Linked DNA regions of Homo sapiens. The protein of the gene in region 1 interacts with the protein of each later gene in a pairwise test. Each region holds a gene or a part of one and is shown on either strand. Other genes may lie near its edges.

The links.
Region 2: the proteins of TMEM255B (region 1) and HSD17B13 interact in binary tests that used the Homo sapiens proteins (3 or more experiments, as listed by UniProt).

What each region holds. Positions count from the first base shown.
Region 1 is NC_000013.11:113,765,428-113,769,245, reverse strand, and holds part of TMEM255B (transmembrane protein 255B), read right to left. Parts: intron 3,132-3,818; coding exon 2,989-3,131; intron 149-2,988; coding exon 86-148; intron 1-85.
Region 2 is NC_000004.12:87,309,155-87,312,972, forward strand, and holds part of HSD17B13 (17-beta-hydroxysteroid dehydrogenase 13 isoform A precursor), read right to left. Parts: intron 1,206-3,818; coding exon 1,089-1,205; intron 1-1,088. UniProt on the Homo sapiens protein: Plays a pivotal role in hepatic lipid metabolism. In vitro, it catalyzes the oxidation of a variety of lipid substrates, including 17beta-estradiol, retinol, retinal, and leukotriene B4.

The DNA.
Region 1 (3,818 bases):
GCTGACTCTTCTCAGAGCCCCAGTGCAGCTGTACCATCCCCTGATGAGGGACTCATGCTCCCCACCACCCCATGTACTTTCTTACCATTTGCCTTCTATTCTCCACCAAGTTGATGCCAATAATTCCTAAGAAAGATCCAAAGCCGAGCTAAAACCAAAGGAAGAACGAGAGAGAAACACTCATTAACGTGCCTAGAAGCTTAACACTGACATTTAAAGCAAATAATCCCGCCCTCAAAGGCATTTTATCCAGGGACGAAGGCCAGACATCCCTACCTCAAGAACCTCAACCACTGAGCAGCAGGTGCGTCTGCTGGCGTTGGGCAGGCATCTCTGCAACATCACCTGTCCTGTCTTCTCTGCTCAGAGGTTTTTAATGATGCATCTGTTTGGCTTGTGACTCTGGGGTAAGAGAAGTTCCCACTCCTCCCCCAGAGACAACATCTTTTCGGGAACCCAGGGCCACCAAGCACCACCATCTGTCCCGTCTTCTCCAGGCCTGAGATGCCCCTGAGCATGGCTCCTGGGTAAGGTATTAGGGAACTACAGCCGTGTTTCAAAAGAAGGGTTGCCAGGCACAAGGGCCACCAGTGACCCCTGCTCAGACGGCCTAACTCTGGTTGCTGCTTCGGGAGAGTGAGCAGGGCAGACCGTTAGCAGGGAGGTGCCAGGTGTGGGGAAAGGGCACCTGAGCCAGGCACAGAGGGGGCACCTGGGCCAGGCACAGAGGGGGCCCCGGGCTGCAGCACAGGCCACCAGGGGTCCGGCAGAGCCCCCTTACTCCACAGGAAGCCCCAGCTCTGGGCAGAAAATGATACTGGGATGTCGGGAAATAGACATGGGACTGTGCTGTCTTAGAACAGAGGCCACCGGCCGGGCATCCGCACCCTCCACCCAGGGCCCGTCCTGGCAGGTGACGCCCACCTGGCAGAGGAATTTTTAAAATCAGTGTGAAGAACATGCATTTCAGCAACACCCACCGAAAATCTGGCTCAGAGCAGCCAACATGGACCTGCCAACGACCGTGCCGAGGCCTAAGACGGCTCTTGCTCCCACGCAGGTGCGCCGGGCCGGTCGCACTTCCCAGTGAGTGTCTGTTGGAAGGGGTGGCCCGCCCGGCACAGCCTTGGAGTTGCTGGGGCCGTGGTGTCAAGTTTAATGCACTGGAAACCGGACTTCTTTATGTAAATAGTTTTGCCTTTTCTGTAATTGTCTGTGTGTCTGTGGTGATAGACACGTACACATGTGGCTTTCACCAACGGTTTGAGAATTCTCCAGGGATAACAGGAATATTTCTTCATGTGCTGAGCTTCAAAATACTGCAGTTCAACTCCACACGTCAAAAATATCAAAATTTCACTTCGATATACATGTATTAAAATACATCTGTTACACTACGTTTTATTTTTTGGGGATTTGAAAAAAACCACACCTTTCTTGAAAATGTGGAGATGTTTTCACGTTCTGGCCGCTTCTTCTGAGATCAGCTTCTTAAGTCTCTACATTGGCAGAAAGTCTCCACAGAAGTGACTCTTAGCCACGTTTCCTTGAAGCTGCTTTTATTTGTTGTCTCCCTAGTTTGCTTTCAGAACTGTCTGTACTACAGGCCATTTCAATCTGGTCAGCACAGCATTAATTCATTGCCCAGAAGGTAGATTCTTTACAGAGCATAGCTTGGGCATTAGCCATTGATGTTTTTCATTATGTTATTCTGAGGCAGCTCTTAAATAAGCTTGAGGACAAACCAAAAAAAACAACCACTCAAGGCTGATCTTGATGTTTCGCAAATCACTTGGAGGTCCCTCCTCACAGCCACTTGCCCTCTGGGCTCCCCTTTCTGCCCAGGAAGCAGAAAAGCCCCTCACATGAGGCCAAGGTCCCCACACCATTGGCCTCTTGCAATTTTACTGATAAAGCTTTTTCTGCATAGATACTATTTGTATATGTTTATTCATAAACTATACACAGGTAGATAGTGTAGATGTCTAAGGCACACCCTAAGATATAAACAAAGGAAAATATAATGGTGAAATAAACAGTATTTGTAAAATATTTCTAAATACTTAGGGCCAAAAATCTTTCATCTTTGCTGATTGTCATCAATATTATTACCAATCTTGGTAGTACTTTAGGTGAGAGTAATGAGATTGAAGAAGCCGCATTTTAAAATCTTGCTTTAGCACTTTATGACGTAGCAACCAGGCTCTGGGGCATGTGAAGGGCATCGCAGCTGATCCAAGCCATTCCAACAGAGGTTCACTGTGCAGAATGCAGGCACTTAGGAGAATTCTTTTACTAACGACAGAGGATGTAATTTCATAGTTCAAAAAACCTTGATACTTTTGAATCTGGGTGACCAATTCTTGCCAATTAGGTTACCATCAATTTACCTCGCCGCCTTACTGTTCAAAATCTGGCCTGACGGGTGGATGAGGTCAGCACCACCACCTTCTGGCCGTTCCCACGCGATCACGTCACTAATACGATCTTTGACCCACGGCTTCTTGGTAGGAATCGTTTAAAGTTACTTTCCCCTTCCATGGGCTATGGTGGTCGACCTGGTCCCTCAGGGTAAAATCCTTCCAGGATGCTTGGGGAGGCTCTGTCCGGCCTTTTTGGACATCCTGGGCTCCTGGCCCCTCCTCCACCTTGGACATTTCCTGTTGCCGGGCTCTGGCCCCCCTCCTGCCCTCTGGTCACCCTGTGACCACATCGGGCCAACCCAGACAATGGAGGGCACCTGGCCCTATTTTGAGATCAACTTGGACCTCAACCCCAATTCCCCTCTGCCTTGGACCTGCCACTGTCCCAGGTCCTGGGGATTGGGAAGTGCATGTCTGTGGGGGCCATAACCCTGCCGACCACAAGCACTGATCGAAGCCTCCCCACCTTCAGCCCCAGCCCTGTGAGCTGGCGTGGACTCCACCCTGAGAGAGCCACACACCACCCTGCCCTCCCCGGCCCAGGCCGCCCGCCCGGCGCACTCACAATGATCCCTGGGTAGTAGCCCCCAACGGTCACATTCTCCGTCCTGGTGGTGGCAGCCAGCCCGACGGTGACTATGAGGACGGACACCAGCAGCAGAGACCCCACAAACCAGAGCGACGTCTTCTTCCTCCTCGAAAGCCCTTCTGTGGGGAGGAAGGCGAGGACCTGTCAGTGAGGGCTCAGGCTCAGGAGGGCGTCAGGCCAGCAGGCTCTGGGCCGTGCTCCGTTACCCAGGGGTCCTGGGATGCACTATCCCCGCCTGCCTCCAGGCCCACCTCAGGGGACCACCCCCAACCTCCATTAGATAACAGAATAAAATCTCTGGACCATAAGCCACTATACTGGATAGCCTGGTATTTGCGGCCAAACCTAATTCTAACTGTCACAGAACTCAAGAAAGCAAACTAGAAAGGACTCCTTCCTATTGGCTGCCTCTTCCTCTATCTGACTTTCTCCCCCTGGTGTCCCCAGGAGGACAGGAGCATCTTTTGTTTACTGTTTTATCATTACCATTCGCTCACAGACACACCCTCTCTATCCGCCTATCCCAGCCACACCCAGTGGGGGAGGGGGCTGCCACCAGGGGAGGGGCAGGGAGAGAGGAACGCACACAGCAGCCATCCAGCTGTGCCATCTGTTTTGCTTTATTTTTTGAAAACTGAATCATCTTGATCCCTGTGTGACTCCAAACAAAATAGGGGATTTAAAAAACCATGGTAAGGTCTTCCTACTCCAAGAGTTTGAAAATCAACATTTGTGTGTGTGCACATGTGTAAGTGCGTGTGTGCAGGGAAAGCAGACCGCACACTGGAGAGCCGCTGGCAGCGATG
Region 2 (3,818 bases), on another chromosome or scaffold:
GGTGGATCACATGAGGTCAGGAGTTCGAGACCAGCCTGGCCAACATGGTGAAACCCTGTCTCTACTACAAACACAAAAAGTTAGTTGGGCGAGGGGGCAGGTGCCTGTAATCCCAGCTACTTGGGAGGCTGAGGCAGGAGAATCACTTGAAGCCAGGAGGCAGAAGCTGCAGTGAGCCAAGATCACGCCACTGCACTCCAGCCTGGGCAACAAGGGTGAAACTCTGTCTCAAAAAAAAAAAAAAAAAAAAAAAAAAGAACCCGTGAAATACTTTGGAATAAATCTGACAAAATATGTGCAAGACTTAAACACCAAAAACTACAAAATACAATTTAAAGATTTAAAGATTTTGAAGAAGATTTTAAAAATAGATATTATGTTCTTGGATTAGAAAACTCAATATTGTTGATATGTCAATACTCCCCAATTGCTCTATAGATTCAGTGCAATCCCAACCAAACTTCCAGCAGACTTTTAAAAATGGAGTCTTTATTATTAACTACTTCACTATATTGCATTCTTTTTAAACTGTGTTTCCTTTAGTTAGAATAGTCTTCAGCAAAGTTTGGGCAGAGACAGTAGATTTGGTAGAGAAAATGAATCACTCTCTTTTTATAGACTGGGTAGGAAAATAACAGAGGAAATAACTGTTCTCCCCAGGGATGGAGAGTTTCCATGCCAATTTTCACAACTGAAAGATGCTCCATAATAATAGCTCTATTGGGCCAGGCATGGTGGCTCATGACTGTAATCCCAGCACTTTGGGAGGCCGAGACAGGAGGATAACTTGAGGTCAGGAGTTCGAGTCCAGCCTGGCCAACATGGGGAAACCTGTCTCTATCAAAAAATACAAAAATTAGCTGGGTGTAGTGTGGCAGCACACACCTATAATCCCAGTTACTTGGGGGTCTGAGGCATGAGAATTGCTTGAACCCAGGAGGCGGAGGTTGCAGTGAGCCAAGATCATGCCACTGCAACCACCGCAATCCAGCCAGGGTGACAGAGTGAGACTCTGTCTAAAAAAAAAAAAAGCAAAAAAAAAAGCTCTATTGGTGTTTTAGTATTTGGGTGTTCTGTGCTGTACTTACTTCTGTAGTCTCAGAAAGATATTGATATACGATGGAACAAAAATCATTTTCTTATTGGTAAGTATTCCATCTATCAGACTTCTTACGACTTCATCTGTCTCCAATACAGGCCATAATCTGTGATTAAAAAGAGGAAAATATTATTTTTATTTTCTAAAATTTTAATTTTATAAGTAAATGATGGCAGGAAAATTATCCTATATTTTTACTAAATTTAGAATGAAGATTTAAAATATTCCAGGATTTGCTGCATTAATGCCACCCTACCCACTTCCTCCACATCCCATGTTGATGTTTTGTTATCAGAAACTTATACTTTCATATCCAGTAGGTGTGTTTCATAGCTCACTTAGTCAAAATATCAAAATGGTGGCGAGGCATTAGATGGTAAGGAGTAGTGGAGCCAGACAAGAAAGAGGAATGGCTAGGATTAATCATGGGACAGGAAGGAAACATCTGACATCTCAAAGCCTGTTGGATGCAAGGAGAAAATTCTATAGCTAAGTATACTTTCTTTCTTGTGGAGGTATTCCATAAAGCTGGATTGTTTTGAGGTCGTCATTTTGTCAGAGGCGTTTAAATCAGAGCAACTCCATCTTGAATAGGGTCTGGGTAAAATAAGGCTGACACCTACTGGGCTGCATTCCCAGGAAGTTAAGGCATTCTTTGTCACAGGATGAGATAGGAGGTTGGCACAAGATTCAGGTCATAAAGACCTTGTTGATAAAATAGGGTGCAGTAAAGAAGCCGGCCAAAACCCACCAAAACCAAGATGGTGATGAAAGTGACCTCTGGTTGTCCTCACTGCTCATTATAAGCTAACTATAATACATTAGCAAGCTAAGAGACACTTCCACCAGCACTATGACAGTTTACAAATACCATGGCAATGGCAGGAAGTTACCCTATATGGCCTAAAAAGGGGAGGAAATCTCAGTTCTGGGAATTGCTCACCCTTTTCCCGGAAAACTCATGAATAATCCACCCCTTGTTTAGCATATAATCAAGAAGTAACTCTAAATACCCTTGGTGGAGCAGCTCAAGCCATTCTTCTCCATGGAGTAGCTGTTCTCTACTCCTTTACTTTCCTAATAAACTTGCTTTTGCTTTGCACTGTGGCCTTGCCCCGAATTATTTCTTGCGAGAAATCTAAGAACCCTCTCTTGGGGTCTGGATTGGAACCCCTTTCCGGTAAGAATTTCGTATTTGAGATTCACCTCTGACTTGCCTATCCTGCAGTTTAATGAGAATTTAAGAGGGGCCCAAGGAGTATGACAACTGGAGGTATGTCATACTTCCAGTTTTCCTTATACTGAAGGCTGTGTACATGTACTCTTGAGAAATATTCATAAACATAGGCTTAGTGTAGAATTGTCTGTTAGTGCAAGATGATGACAGAAAAATGGATTTAAAATGTTGTATTCAAATTAAGATGTCCAGGCATGGACTGAACAGCCAGTGAATGTAAAGGCTGGGTGAGGAGTTAGGGAGCCAGCGAATGTTAAAACTTCATTCCCTGGGATGATCTGTGGTTTGCTGCAGATTATTATGTGATTGAGTTCTCCACTGCCTTGAATAGCAAGCCAACAGAGAGTAATACAAATCAATACATTTCTAAATTACTCCGTTCTGCCCTTTCTCTCCCTGATTTCATCTACATGGATCCAACAACCCAGCCTCGGAGCCAAGTGTGACATTACATATCAATGCCTTAGCCCTTACTAAGGAAATTCACAATCTAGCAACCTCTATAAAATCAATCCCAAATATTTAGCATTGCCTGTGTCTACCTCTAAGTTAGCCCCCAGGAACCCTGTACCCAGAGTTCCATTATCCTTACTCCCCTCATCTATCATGCCTTCCCCAAGAGTGGCAGGATACCCTTAGGAAAGCTCATGGTACACGAAGCCTGAATGCCTACCAAGAGGGTTTTTATTGGGCCCAATTCCTTGTCTAAGAAAACAATCAGGAGTTGCAATAGTACTATAGTATTTACTTACATATTGCATACTTATTAAGTACTGTGAGACAACGTAGCAAATGTAAGAAGCCACGTTTACTCACTTCTGGTTGTCAGCATAATTTCACAAAGTCCCTGACTCTGTGACAATGTGCAGCTCTCTGGAAAGATGCTTTGAAGACAATACAGGATAGAGCACATGGCCCCCACTATCAGAACAGTTCAACTGAACCTCTCTAAAGGGCTGCTCTCAGGCTATAGGCCTCCGACTGTAGTCTTCAGTAAGGCTTCTAAATAAAATTAACACCTTTAATTCTTTTTTTTTTTTTTTTTTTTTTTTTTTTTGAGACGGAGTCTCGCTCTGTCGCCCAGGCTGGAGTGCAGTGGCGCGATCTCGGCTCACTGCAAGCTCCGCCTCCCGGGTTCACGCCATTCTCCTGCCTCAGCCTCCCGCGCAGCTGGGACTACAGGCGCCCGCCACCACGCCCGGCTAATTTTTTTGTGTTTTTTAGTAGAGACGGGGTTTCACTGTGTTAGCCAGGATGACCTTTAATTCTTTAAAAACTTATTTTTTTGGCCGGGCATGGTGGCTCACTCCTGTAATCCCAGCATTTTAGGAGGCCAAGGCAGGTAGGACACCTGAGGTCAGGAGTTTGAGACCAGCCTGGCCAACATGGTGAAACCCCGTCTCTACTAAAAATACAAAAATTAGCCAGGCGTGGTGGTGGGCGCCTGTAATCCAAATACTCAGGAGGCTGAGGAAGGAGAAT